2 separate regions of the Homo sapiens genome follow, and region 2 is linked to region 1. The links come from fine-mapping of genetic effects on gene expression. Tissue or cell type: whole blood. Region 1 holds a variant in brackets; the other region holds the start of a gene. All regions are shown on one strand. Distances are between the middles of the regions.

Region 1 (7,722 bases):
GTTACACATCAAAAGAGATGAGAAACAGTAAAGACAAATGCAACATACAGTTCCATTAAACCAACAATAAAAATACATTTTCGGAATAATGGAGACAACGGAAATATGGCCCAGATATTAGATATCCTTTAAAAAAATCCTTAGCTATGATGATAGTATTATGGCTGGTATGGGTTTGGCTGCATCCCCAACCAAACCACATCTTGAATTCCCAGGTGTTGTGGGAGAAACCTCGTGGGAGGTTAATTGAATCATGGGGGCAGGTCTTTCCCATGCTATTCTCATGAGAGTGAGTAAGTCTCATGTGAACTGATGGTTTTATAAAAGGGAAGTTCTCCTGCACATGCTCTCTTGCTTGCTGCCATGTAAGACATGCCTTTGCTTCTCCTTTGCCTTCTGCCATGATTCTGAGGCCTCTCCAGCCATGTAGAGCTGTCAGTCCATTAAACCTCTTTTTCTTTATAAATTACCCAGTCTTGAGTATTTCATCATAGCAGTATGAAAATGGACTAACATAGTAAATTGGTACCAGTGGAGTGGGTACTGCTATTAAGATACCAGAAAACTTAGTTTAAAAGGGAAGTGACTTTGGAACTGGATAACAGGCAGAGGTTGGAACAGTTTGGAGGGCTCAGAAGAAGACAGGAAAATGTGGGAAAATGTGGAGCTTCCTAAAGACTTGTTGAATGGTTTTGACCAAAATGCTGATAGTCATATGGACAATGAAGTTCAGGCTGAAGTGGTCTCAGAAGGAGATGAGGAACTTATTGGGAACTGGTGAAAAGGTGATTCTTGATATGCTTTAGCAAACAGACTGGTGGCATTTTGTCCCTGCCCTAGAGATTTGTGGAACTTTTAACTTGAGAGAGATGATTTAGGGTATCTGGCGGAAGAAATTTCTAAGCAGTAAACTGTTCAAGAGGTGATTTGAGTACTCTTAAAAGCATTCAGTTTTATTCATTCACAAAAATACGGTTTGGAATTGGAACTTATGTTTAAGGGAAGCAGAGCATAAAAGTTCAGAAAACTTGCAGCCTGATGATGCAATAGAAAAGAAAAACCCATTTTCTGAGGAGACATTCAAGCCAGCTGTAGAAATTTGCTTAAGTAACGAGGAGCCAAATGTTAATTGCCAAGAAAATAGGGAAAATGTCTCCAGGGCATGTCAGAGGTTGTCATGGCAGCCTCTCCCATCACAGGCCCAGAGGCCTAGGAGGAAAAAATGGCTTGCTGGGCTGGGCCCAGGGCCTTGCTGCTTTGTGAAGTCTTGGGACTTGGTGCCCTGCATCCCAGCCGTGGCTAAACAGAGCCAAGGTACAGTTTGGGCCCTGGCTTCAGAGGATGCAAGCCCCAAGCCTTGGCAGTTTCCACGTGGTATTGAGCCTGCAGGTGCACAGAAGTCAAGAATTGAGGCTTGGGAACCTCTGCCTGGATTACAGAATCTGTATGGAAATGCCTGGATCCCCAGTCAAAAGTTTGCTGCAGGGGCAGAGCCCTCATGGAGAACCTTTGCTAGGGCAGTGTGGAAGAGAAATATGGGGTTGGAGCCCCCACACAGAGTCCCTACTGAGGCACCACCTGGTGGAGCTGTGAGAAGAGGACCACTGTCCACCAGACGCCAGAATAGTAGATCCACCAACAACTTGCACCGTGCACCTGGAAAAGCCGTAGACACTCAACGCCAGCCCATGAAAGCAGCCAAGAGGAAGGCTGTACACTGTAAAGCCACCAGGGAGGAGCTGCCCAAGACCATAGGAACCTACCTCTTGCATCAGCGTGACCTGGATGTGAGACAAGGAGTCAAAGGAGATCATTTTGGAGCTTTAAGATTTGACTGCCCCGCTGGATTTTGGACTTGCATGGGGCCTGTAGCCCTTTTGATTTGGCCAATTTCTCCCACTTGGAACAGCTGTATTTACACAATGCCTGTACCCCCATTGTATCTAGGAAGTGACTGATTGGCTTTTGATTTTACAGGCACATAGGCAGAAGGAACTTGCCTTGTCTCAGATGAGACATTGGAATGTGGACTTTTGAGTTAATGCTGAAATGAATTAAGACTTTGGGGGACTTTTGGAAGGCATGATTGGTTTTGAAATATGAGGACATGAGATTTGGGAGGGGCCAGGGCAGAATGACATGGTTTGGCTGTGTCCTCACCCAAATCTCATCTTGAATTCCCATGTGTTGTGGGAGGGACCCGGCAGGAGGTAATTCAATCATGGAGGCAGGTCTTCCCCATGTTATTCTCGTGATAATGAATAAGTCTCATGAGATCTGATGGATTTATAAAGGAGAGTTGCCCTGCACAAGCTCTCTTCTCTTGTCTGCCACCATGTGAGACGTGCCTTTCACCCTCTGCCATGATTGTGAGGCCTCTCCAGTGATGTGGAACTGTAAGTCCATTAAACCTCTTTCTTTTGAAAATTGCCCAGTCTCAGGTGTCTTTATCAGCAGTGTGAAAAAGGACTAATACAATAGCTGTATGAAAAAGTCCTTATTTGGGGAGCTATCTATTATAGTAAAGTACTTAGGAAAGAAATGTCATGATATCTGTCATTTAAAGCACTTCAGAAAAAAACACACTATAAATCTAGGTGAAGATTACATTGAGATTCATTACACTATTTCTCTGCTTTTCTATATGTTTGAGAATTTATATAATAAAAAGTTTACTAAATGCATGAAAAATTATTTTAACTCTTCAGTGATCTTTTCAGAAGGCCTTCAGCCTCTTTTCTTAATGTGGCATACAGACATAAAATTTACCATATAAAAAATTTTAAAGTATACAGTTCAGTAACATTAACTATATTCACATTGTTGTGCAAATATTACCACAATCCATCCCTAGAATTTTCTCATCTTCCCAAACTGAAACCTGGTACACATTAATTACCCATGCCCCATCCCCTGGCCATTGGCAAGCACAATTTTATTTTCTGTTTCTATAAATTCAACTACTCTAACTACCTAATATAAGTGGAATCATACAATATTTGTCCTTTTGTGACTAGCTTATTTCACTTAGCATGATATCTTGAAGTGTTGTACCACATGTGAAAATTTCCTTCCTTAGCAGGCTGAGTAATATTCCATTATATGTACATACCCCATGTTACTGATCCATTCATCTCTCAATTGACACTTGGGTTGCTTAGATCTTTTAGCTATTGTGAAAAAAATAACTGAGTTCCTGCTTTAAATTATTTGTGGCATATACCCAGAAGTATTGCTGGATCATATGGTAATTCTACGTTTGATTTTTTTTTTTTAAAGAACTGCCATACCATTTTCCAAAGTGGCTGCACCATTTTACTTTCCCACAAATAATGCACAAACAGTTACTATTTCTTCACATCCTTGCCAACATTTGCTATTTTATGTTGTTTTCCTTCAAGACCAGAATGAGATACCACTTTAAATCTATTTTATGATAGACATATATATACAATATATATATA[T/C]ACATATAGCCATACTAAAATACATGTAAAGTGGTATCTCATTGTGGTCTTGACTTGCACTTCCCCAATGATTAGTGATGTTGAGCATCTTTTCATGTACTTTTTGGCCATTTGTATGTCTTCTTTGGAAAAATGTCTATTCAGCTCCTATGTTCATTTTTTAATTGGGTTGCTTGGTTTTTTGCCACTGAGTTAACAATCCCATCAAAAAGTGGGCTAAGGACATGAATAGGCAATTCTCAAAAGAAGATACACAAATAGCCAACAAACAAAATAAGAAATGCTCAACATCACTAGTGATCAGAGAAATGCAAATCAAAACCACTATGCAATACCACCTTACTCCTGCAAGAATGGCCATTATCAAAAAAATTTTAAAAAATGGAGGTTGGCATGGATGTGGTGAAAGGGAACACTTCTACACTGCTGGCAGGAATGTAAACTAGTACAACCACTATGGAAAACAATGTGGAGATTCCTTAAAGAACCAAAAGTAGAACTACCATTTGATCCAGCAATCCCAGTACTGGGAATCCAGCAATCCCAGTACTGGGAATCCAGCAATCCCAGTACTGGGGATCCAGCAATCCCACTACTGGGGATCCAGCAATCCCAACCCAGGAGAAAAGTCATAAAAAAAAGATATTTGCACACACGTTTATAACAACACAATTCACAATTGCAAAAATATGGAACCAGCCCAAATGCCCATCAATCAACTACTGGATAAAGAAATTGTGGTACACACATACACACACACACACACAAACACACACACACACACACACACACACACACACAATGGAATACTACGCAGCCATAAAAATGAATTAATTAATGGCATTTGCAGCAACCTAGATAGAACTGGAAACTATTATTCCTAGTGAAGTAACTCAGGAATGGAAAACCAAACATCGTATGTTCTCACTCGTTAGTGGGAGCTAAGCTACGAGAATGCAACGGTATAAGAATGATACAATGGACTTTAGGGACTCAGGGGAAAGGGTAGGAGGGGGTGAAGGTGTATACTGCTCAGGTGATGGATGCACCAAAATCTCACAAATCACCACTAAAGAACTTACTCATGTAACCAAATACCACCTGTTCCCCAAAAACCTATGGAAATAAAAAAATTTTTTAAATTCTCTATATATTCTAGACAGCAATTCCTTATAAAATATATGATTGAAAAGTATTTTCTCTCATTTTTTTCACCCTGTTGGTACTGTCCTTCAATGCACAAGAAGTTTTAATTTTCATGAAGTCAAACATCTATTTTTTTCTTTTCTTGCCTGTGCTTTTGGTGTCCTGCCCAAGAAATTATTGACAATTCCAATGTTGTGAAGCTTTCTTTATGTTTTCCTCTAAGAGTTTTACATAGTAGCTCTTATGTTTAGATCTCTGATCAATTTTGAGTTAACTGTTGCATATGGTATAAGGTAAAGGTCAAATTCATTCTTTTACATACAGATATTCAGTTTTCCCAACACACCATTTGTAGAAGAGACTGTGTACAATGCCTTTCTCTATCAAATGATCTTGACACCTTAGTCCATTTGTGTCGCTATAAAGGAATATCTGAAGCTGGGTAATTTATAAAGAAAAGAGGTTTATTTGGCCCACAGTTCTGTAAGCTGTACAAGAAGGATGGTACCAACATCTATATCTGGTGAGGACCTCAAGCTGCTTCCATTCATGGCAGAAGGCAAAAGGGAGCCCATCACACAGCAAGAGCAGCAAGTGAGAGAGAGGGAAGAAAGTGCCAAGTTCTTTTCAATCACCAGTTCTCAAAAGAACTAAGAGTGAAATTTCAGTCATTCCCATGAGAACGGCATCAAGCCATTCATGAGGGATCTACCCCCATAATCCAAATAGCTCCCATCAGACCCTACCTCCAATACTGGGGATCAAATATCAATATGAGACTTGGTGGGGCCAGACAAACCATTTCCAAACCATAGGAGGACTTCTGTCAAAAGTTATTTGAGCATGTATGTGAGGCTTTATTCCTGAGCTCTTTATTCTATTCCATTGCTCTATATGTCTATCTTTACACCAGTACCACACTATTTTAATTACTGGAATTTTGTAGTTAAGTTTTGAAATCAGGAAGTATACGACCTACAACTTTGTTTTGGCTATTTGGGGTCCCTTGAGATTCCATATATGGTTTAGGATAGATTTTCCTATTTCTGCAAGAAGGTTATTGCGATTTTGATAATATTACATTGAATCCATAGATTTCTTTGGGTAGTACTGACATCTTAACAGTATTAAGTCTATCAATCCATAAACATGGAATGTCTATTCATTTATTTATGTCCTCTTTATTTCAGCAAAGTCTTACAATTTTCAGTGTACAATTCTTCCACCTCCTTGGTTTAATTTATTACTATTTTATTTTTGTTGATATTGTAAATGGAATTGTTTTCTTAATTTCCTTTTTGGATAGTTCGCTGTTACTTTATAGGAATGCAACTGATTTTTGTGTGTGATTTTGTATCCTGCAACTTTGCTGAATTCATTTATTATTAATAGTTCTATCAGATATTTTTTCTTTTGTGGAATCTTAGATTGCCTACATGTAAGGTCATATCATCTGCTTACAATGGTAATCTTACTTATTCCTTTCTAATTTTGATGCCTTTCATTTCTCTTTCTTGCCTAATTGCTCTGGCTAGGACTTCTGGTGCCAAGATAAATAGAAATGGCAAAGGCAGGAATCCTTGTCTTGTTCCTGATCTTAGAGGAAAAGCTTTCAGTCTTTTATGACCAATTATATTAGTTGTCGGTTTTTTACACATGGCCTTTATTCTGAGGTAGTCTCCTTCTATTTTCAGTTTGTTGGGTGTTTTATCATGAAAGAGTGTTAAATTCTGTGAAATGCTTTTTCTGCATCTATTGAAGTGATTATGTGTTTTTATTCTCTTAATGTGGTACATTACATTGACTATAACACTTTTCACATGTAGAACCATCCTTGCATTCCAAGAATAAGTCCAACTTGGTCATGTGTATAATGCTTTTAACGTGCTGCTGAATTCAGTTTGCTAGCATTTTGTTGAGGATTTTTACATCAGCAGTCATAAGAGATAATGGCCTGCCTGGCCAAAATGGTGAAACCCTGCCTCTACTAAAAATACAAAAATTAGCTGGGTGTGGTGACAGGCACCTGTAATCCCAGCTACTCGGGAGGCTGAGGCAGGAGAATCTCTTAAACCTGGGAGGCAGAGGTTGCAGTGAGCCAAGATCACACCATTGCACTCCAGCCTAGGCAACAGAGTGAGGCTCCATCTCAAAAAAAAAAAAAAAAAAAGAGAGAGAGAGAGAACGATAAGTTATGTAGTTTTCTTTTCTTTCTTTTTTTAGTATCCTTGTCTGACTTTGGTACCAGGGTAATTTTGGCCCCTTAGAATAAGTTAGGAGGTGTTCCCTCTTTATCAGTTTTTTGGGAAGAGTTTGAGAAAAATTGATGTTGATTCTTCCTTAAATATTTGGTAGAATTCACCAATGAAGCCATCTGATCCCAGGCTTTTCTTTCTTGGAATGTTTTTGATTATTGCTTCAATCTCCCATAGGTCTGTGCAAGCTTTCTATTTTTTCATGATTCAGTGTTGGGAGGTTGTGTCTTTCCAGGTATTCATCCATTTCATCTAGGTTATCCAATTTCTTGGCATAAAATTGTTTATAGTACTTTTACAATCCTTTTTATTTCTATAAAATTGGTAGTTGTGTCCCCTCTTTCATTTCTGATTTTAGTTGAGTCTCCTCTCTTGTTTTCTTTAGTCACTATAATGAAAGATTTGTTAATTTCATAGATTTTTTTTAAAAACCAATTGTTGGTTTGGCTGAGTTTTCTCTTGGCCTCATTTTTGAGAAAATGAGCAAACTGGCTGGTACACATGATTATCTGTATGGTTTTGGAGGATAAATGACAGTTACTTGTCTAATGCTGGTCACTGAAAAATTTGAAAATTTCCCAAGCATCACAGTAAATCCTAACTTCACATTTAAATCTGTGACAATGAATTTTTAAGACCAGTATTACTTTCAGGAAATTCACTTCCAAATAAATTTTAATTCTGAAGATGAGTCAACAGTGTGATACCAACTGCTTCACTGCCAAATAACACTCATGAAACAGCCAGCCATCTCCATAAGAAATCCACCAAGTAAGCTCAGATTCCACTGGTTCTGAAGCTACATTCTTGACCTTCACTGGCATCTCAAGAACTGGACCAAAATATTCCACTACTAA
Region 2 (7,722 bases), 140 kb before region 1:
AGACAGTAAAGAGAACTGAGAAAAAGGAATTAATTGAAGAGATAGTAATTGAGAATTTTACAGAAGTGATGATAAATATAAATCTATTTTCCTAAGTAGAATAAAAGAAACCCAAATGTAGACACATCATAGTGAAACTGTAGAAGAGCAAACACAAAAAGGTTCCAAAGTAGCCAGAGGAAAAGAGACAAATCATCCATATGATACAACAGCAGTGACAAAAACCAAAATGAAATGGAATAACATCTTCAAAGTGTCCATTTTGCATTGTAGATCCAACCCATTGTCAGAGGATGAAAGTGATATAAATACATTTTCAGATAAACATAGTTTCTCACCAACAGACTGCTATTAAAGGAACTTCTAAAAGATGTACTTTAGAAAGAAAAATGATCATAGAATGATCTGAGATATGAAAAGGAATAGTAAGTAAATAAAATACAAACATGTAAGTACATATATATACACACATACATAAACATCTGTGTAAGAGTCTGGAGAGAGGTGTCCAGACTTAAAACATTCTAAGGTTTTTGGATTGTCTAGGGGTAGTGTTTAAGATATTTAACTTAAAACTTTATTGTATTAAATATGCAAGGCAAAAATTTAAGGGTAACACTAAGAAAAATTGGTAGCATAAATTTGAAAAAAAAAAAAGAATAAAACACACATGCCCGACATTTTTTTTAAAGGCAAGGAAGAAAAAAGCATAGAAAAAAAAAGAGACTAATAAAATTAGTTCAAACAAGTCCAAATGTATGTCAATAATTACAATGAATGTAAATGGAATAAACTTGCCAATTAAAGGTTATACTGCCATATTGGATAAAAAAACAAAATCCAGCTGCGTGAAGTTTATGAGACACAAAATAAAAAGGACAGAGAAAGGTTGAAAGAGAGGTGGGGAGCGAAAAGATATATAAGGTAAACACCAATAAAAAGAGAGCTGGGATGTTACCTTAATATTTGACAAAAATTTTAAGACAAAAAGCAGTATTGGTGATCAAGAGGGCAACTACTAAATAATAAAGAATAAATTCATCAGAAAGGAAAAATATAACAATTTAAATTTCCATTTTCCTAATAGCCTCAAAATATAAAAAGCAAAAATTCATAGAATTTCAGGGTAAAATGGCCAAATGCAGAATTATAAGTTCTCCTTGTTCTTTACTGTAAAAATCATACATAGTGAATACATTCAAAAGATATTTGTATTAGCTTGTGGGATTAAGGATTTTTCTCCATTTTCTAAACTTTATTGCTGTGATATTGATTTTATAATTCATATACTTTTTTCAGAAATGAACTATGCGGTGAAATTTTTAAATAACTGATGGTTAATTATGGTTTTACTAAATTTGGGGGTAATTACTGTGTATAGTTTTAGATCCTGCTCCCAATGATTATCAGGTTGTGTACATTTTAAAGATAATTTCTTGTTTGTGTTTTGCTAAAATTTCAAATGATTTTTACATGGACTCAAGTGGTTCAGACACCACTTGACTTACACATTAAAGAACGTGGCTTACTACACAGTTTCTGCTTTACTCAATAAGAATAAAATAATTCTGGAAAGAATGCATAATAATGCACTCCAAACTTAAATATGCTACTGATTGTTAATGGCTACATTATTCTGGCTATTTGTATCAACAACACAGCCACAACTTTTCTAAACTTCTGCCCAGATATTACAATTATCCTAGGGATTACTTACTCTCAGAAAAGTAGAGGAAGATACAAATTGGCAATTCTTTTTCTCACACTGATACTCCTTTGGACTTAAGTGAACCAATATTGTTATTACTAAAGCTCAGTATTCCACCTCTATTTATACTTTCTGAAACGTATAAGCAACACTTAGATGAAATAGGAAGGGATCACTGTACACAAATGGAAAATAAAGCAGCATGCAAGGAAGCTGGTTCTAAAGAAAACAAGCACAGGTGGCCGGGCATGGTGGCTCATGCCTGTAATCCCAGCACTTTGGGAGGCCGAGGCAGGCGAATAACGAGGTCAGGAGTTTGAGACCAGCCTGGCCAACATGGTGAAACCCCGTCTCTACAAAAAATACAAAAAATTAGCTGGGCGTAGTGGCGGGTGTCTGTAATCCCAGCTACTTTTGGGAGGCTGAGGCAGGAGAATCGCTTGAACCCAGGAAGCGGAGGTTGCAGTGAGCCGAGATCATGCCACTGCACTCCAGCCCTGGTGACGGAGTCTCATCTCAATAAACAAACAAACAAAAAAGCACAGGTTACTTTATTACAGTACTGAAAACCAAGACAGCACATGGACTCTCTTTGAATATATAACCTAAAAATTGAAACTGTAAAATTTAATCTATTATACAGAATTTTTTTCATAGTTGTTTAAATTTTACTGTTTGCAATTCTAGAAAAATAACATCATGTTGGAAAAGTAAGCAGTAATTTAAAATGAATTATATTTTGAAAAATATAGAAGAATGACAAGAATTCTAAATTTTTGTGAATATTTTACCCAAGAAATGTGTTTTAGAATCTTTTGAGATTTGAATTAGAAAATATTGTTGGTCAAATTCTTTCACTGTTTAAAGCCAACAATAAAAGAATAGGAAAAGAATGTAGTTATTTCCAACTCTGTGCTATAACAATAAGATAGTAACGTCTAGAAATTATATCTTAAAACCTTCAGAGTAAATTAATAAAAATTCAACATACTTCAAGTTATCACTGTATTTTTTCTATAATTACCTTTTCGTTTACTGTTTCAATTTATTGAATTATACATACAATGAAGAGCACAATAAATGTACATACAGCTTGATGAATTCTCACATAGTGAGCCTGTGTTACAAGTAATCTATTATTAACTTTTAAGATGATACAGTGCTATGATCGAAGGACTAAAATGATCAACATCACCATAAAAGGCAGAGTCATAAACAAGAACAATTAAGTGTAATTAAATCAGGTGGGAGGCACACTTACAAAAATGAAACAATTTTTGGTTCACATTTTACACCACACAGGTATTCTGTATCTTTAGAACATGAGAAAATACATATTCTCAGTCTGATAGGTCTCTGACTTGGGGGTTTCTTTTACTGTACTTTTTTTCTCTCTAGTAGCTGAACATTTTAAAGCAATCAGCAGAAAAAATATAAAACTTCAGAACCAATTAGACTTTTAAAAGCAACGTTCTTGCCCTTTCCAGAGATACATTCCTTAATCCTCCTACAAATCATGACCTCACACGATAACTTTAAGGGTGAACATCAACTTATCTACATTTTGGTGCTTTCTTTCCCTTAAGTGGCAGATGGTTTCTATTAACCTAAAATTGAAGTCATTGTTGGGGGACCCCTAATTCCATGTCTAGTCCTAGTGCCCAGAGGCTACCAAAGACGATACGAATAGCTTCTCAGGCACTCTACCCACCGTTTACCTTGTTAATACAAATCTTTCCCAGACCTGGGTCCCGAAATTATTTTACCCTGCAGAGCAGAAATGTTACGGTGTTCATTCAGTGAACTCTTCCCTAGTTTTTAATCTTTGTATTTTCTGCGTATACTTCAAGCCACCAGTAACTTTCCCAGTTACCAAGAAACAGTGTAACACAGGTCGCTATTTGTTTTGTTCGGAATTTACGAGCAATTTAACCACACGTGATTAGCAACATTAAGGGGGCTCCTCCAGGCAAAGAATCCACAGAATGAGAGGCCCTTGGTACCCAAATGAAGCAACAATGAAAGATCGGCGAAGCTCAGCAAGGTTCCTGAGCGCCACGGACGCCTGCTCTGATTTCAGGTTGCCGGCGCGCGCCCGCGGGTCTGCCTTTATGGACGAGGCGCAAGAGGGATCCAGGAAAGACGGTGCCCTTAGAGACTCGGAGATTAGCGTGGGCAACCCTGCCACCAGCTGCCCCTGCCACCAGCCGCCCCCACAACAAAAAGGAGGAAACGCTCCGCATCCCGTCACCAGGACAACTCTGTAACCCGACACCGAGGCTCAAGATTCCGCATCCCGGGCAGCGAACACAGGAGAAAAGCACATCGCGGCCCGGCCGCGGGGCTCCAAGGCGTCCGTGCCGCCGCTGTTCCTGGGGTGCCGAGAGCGACGCGGGGTCCACCCTCTCCGCCGGCCCGAGGTCCGAAGCTCGGCCCGCCACCGCTCCCGGCCGGCGCCTCCCGCACGTGGCGGCCGTGATTGTCCCGGGGCGGTATCCCTCCGCGCCCCCGCCTCAGTCTCCCCCCGCCCTTCCCGGGACCCTCCGTGCCCGGGCGCCGCGGAAGGATCGCACGCACGCGCGCGCGCACGCCCAGCCGTGTCCGCGGAAAACGGAGGGCGCTGCGGTAAGGAGCAGCCGCCACAGGCACAGCCGCTTCGCAGCCTCCCGCCGCTGGTTTGTCAGCCCCGCGGCTGCGGGCGGCCGGGCGGCCGAGCGCGCTCTGAGGTTCGTCCCTCATCGCTGAACCCGCGTCCTCCCGCCGCAGCTCCTCGGGGAGGGGGGCGGTCGGTGCCTGCGCAGAGCCGCCTCCTCCCCGCCCCCGCCCCGCCTCCCCCCGCGCCGCCGCCGCCCGCTACCGCCGCCGCCGCCGCTGCGCCTGCTGCTCCTCGCCGTCCGCGCTGCAGTGCGAAGGGCTCGAAGATGGCCGGTTGGCAGAGCTACGTGGATAACCTGATGTGCGATGGCTGCTGCCAGGAGGCCGCCATTGTCGGCTACTGCGACGCCAAATACGTCTGGGCAGCCACGGCCGGGGGCGTCTTTCAGAGCATTACGGTGAGGACCAGTGGCGGCCGGTACCCTGGTCCCTGCACCGGAGCGGGGTGGCCGGCCGCGGGGGCACCGCAGCGCGGGGCTGGAACACTGAGGGCCGAGCCCGCAGGTGTGCTAGGCAGCGGGCGCCGAGGATGCGGCTGCCGGGCGGGCGGGGAGGCCGAGGCCCGGGGACGCCCCCTCACCCGGGGCTGCGCTGACAGGCTGGGGGCGGCGGCCGGACTCCTTGCTGGCCCTGGCCGGGCGCCCCCGGCGTTCCCAGCGTCGGTCCAGGTGCCCGGGTTGGGGGAGGGGGCACGCACCGGCCAGGGCAAGGGGAGGGGTTCCTTTTTTCCTCCTAGTGCGGTTCCCCTAGGTTCTCTTGAAGCCCTGAGGTTTGCTATGCACGTTCTGGGGTGGAAGCGGGGGTCGGGGATCCGGGCTGGGGCGCGCGGGCCCCGGGTGGAGGTCCCTAGGCTCTCTGGCCGGCTCTTGCTCCGCGGACAGCGCGCCTCCCGCGCCTCCGGCTGTGGGAGGCGGCGGCCCCGGCCCGGCCCCCGGGATTCTCGAAGCGACTTTGCGTAGGTTTACCGATGTCCAGGCCTCTGGGGCTTGCGAGAGATGTACGCCGACCGCGTAGGTGGATTCGTGAATCTCGACTTCAGCTCTAGCTCTATAGGTTGTTTTTTTTTTTTTTTTAAATTCTCCAAGATGGCGAACTGCCATTGATTTCTCTTCTCATATGGAGATTCATCGATATACGGTTATCCCCAGTTATGCAACATAGCTCAAAAAAGGGGTGCTTTTCGGGGGCTTTCAATTATCTGCGAAGACCAGGAGCACACTTCACTTCTCTAAGTCCCTCCCTCTTTAGTGGTGGCAGTAAAGGAACTAATGCAGTTTTATGCTTCACATTGCCTGATTTTCTTGAGACTTGATGGTTTTGAGTTGGTTGCAATATGTTTGGAGAATATTTGCCACAAAACCTCCAGCTTATTGTTTTGCCTGTTTCTGCCCAAGGCTGTTTCTAAAATTATGATAATTGTACTAAATACGAGACCATTCTCTTTATTTCTTAGCACCACGCTCCCTTTCCATTAAGCACCAAAATTCAGGTCCCCTATTAAGGGTGCTAATTATTCTTTTACCACTTAACATGGTTTAAAGTCTAACTTTAGAACTCAGTCCTTGATAGTAGTACTTTAAGGTCTCGTATACCCGCAGTGGACTACAATTCTTGTAGGGAATTGGCATCTGGTCATCAACTTTTTTCCTGCAGTCCTCTTGTCTTTGTGTGTGAGTTCCCGCTGTCTGACTAGGAAGATTGCGGGAGTGTGCTTGGAAATGGCTGGGGCCTGCTATGACTCTGCAGTTCTGATGGGGGCGACGCCTTCCTTCTTATTCATGGAATGTTAGAATGCACGTTTTCTCCTTTCCGGTTCTGGTGGCTACCTCAGTTTCTTTCCCAATCTCCCTCCATTTTTTCTGTTTTACTATTGCCTACCGCAGTGCTGTAGACAGAATCCACTTTGCGTTTGCCCAGAAAGAAAACTGATTACTGAGATGGGAGGGGAAGGGAAGTTGGAAAGAAACGGGAGTCGTGGCTAGAAAAATAGGAGGGAAATATGAATTTGGAAAAGCACTGATGTCCAGGGGTTGAAGTCCATCTCATCACGTATATTTCTAGTTACTCTAAGCAGAGAAGTGAACACATCAAAGAACAGGCTTTATTTTGGGAGACTTTGAAGCAACTTTAAATTTGATGAAACATGATTTACTGTAATGGGACTGAATATGATAGACCAGCTTTGTTCAGAGTTGATAGCTGAATTTTTACCATTACGTGAACACTTTCAGGCACCAGCTGACTTAATACAGTTTATAAATAACTCTTTAAGTTTGCACTTTGTCTAGTGTCAACTGTCAACTCTTTACAGTTTCTTTGTATAGACTGGTCTTGGTTAAGAGACGACATCATTAACTGAAGTCAAATCAACTCATGTAAAATATGTGATTATATAGGATTAAATAATTATTTAGAAAAGACTGAATCTTGGTTTTACATTAGTGAAATGTGGCTATCTGGCAGTGGTAGCATAAGCCTAGCTACAGCCCTTCCTGTTACATCAAGCCCTAAAAGGAGTTAACTACAACTTAATGTGTGTGTGTTTTTTTTTTTTCTTTTTGGTGGGGGGCAGCCAATAGAAATAGATATGATTGTAGGAAAAGACCGGGAAGGTTTCTTTACCAACGGTTTGACTCTTGGCGCGAAGAAATGCTCAGTGATCAGAGATAGTCTATACGTCGATGGTGACTGCACAATGGACATCCGGACAAAGAGTCAAGGTGGGGAGCCAACATACAATGTGGCTGTCGGCAGAGCTGGTAGAGGTGAGTAAGGCATTCTTTTGGTTAAAGTTGCATGCCACATTACAACTTATTAAGCAGTTTCTTTTAACATTTTGAATAAAAGTTAGTCCATAATGGCTATTAAGGTGGTTTTTGTGAACTGCCCAGCACTATGGAGAAGCACTGCTTTAGTTTTACCTACTCTACAGCATCTATGACCTGGCCTCTTAGATCCTGATTTTGTTTCTACGATAGAATATTCGTATGAACTCACTTTCAGCTTTATTAAACTTAAAAGTCTCTTAAACTGCTTGACATGTCAAATCATAATCCTGTGGTGTTTCAGATTGTTAAATTGTTCGAATCACTTGGTTATTTTAGTCCCTTTTGGTGTGTGTTTGACCTTTGGATCTCTTTTCTTTTTTTTCTTGCTTGTATTCTAACCATTTCACTACTCAGCATAAAGAAGGAAAAATTAACATCCGTTCATTTTTCAGTTAGGAACTTTGCTGGGGAAAAGATAATTAGATGAGGATTTTGGAGTAAGTTGTCCATTCACTGAAATATTTTCAAAGATTGTGTCTGAGACTTAGATTTGAAAAGTAGGAAATTACATTTAGTTTGTATACTTGGTCC

What was found. PIP is the estimated chance that this variant, and not a neighbour inherited with it, causes the effect.
Region 2: it holds the start of PFN2, and the variant in region 1 is fine-mapped to the expression of PFN2 in whole blood (INTERVAL, PIP 0.98).

Annotation. Positions count from the first base shown.
Region 1 is chr3:149,832,177-149,839,898 of GRCh38, reverse strand. All of the region lies in intron 1 of RNF13 (ring finger protein 13), which reads right to left. Among named protein-coding and RNA genes, the nearest start is that of RNF13, 23 kb to the right of the region's middle. The variant T/C (reference allele first, on the strand shown) is at 3,465.
Region 2 is chr3:149,967,764-149,975,485 of GRCh38, reverse strand. PFN2 (profilin 2) reads left to right here and starts at 4,591. Exons shown (of 3, transcript NM_053024.4): 1 at 4,591-4,761; 2 at 6,936-7,128. The coding sequence starts at 4,630. It overlaps LOC646903 (a long non-coding RNA gene), which reads right to left and starts at 4,207. Exons shown (of 1, transcript NR_036538.1): 1 at 2,244-4,207. RefSeq lists enhancers at 3,328-3,858, 3,859-4,390 and silencers at 4,236-4,295, 4,526-4,605, 4,816-5,055, 5,066-5,115, 5,136-5,395.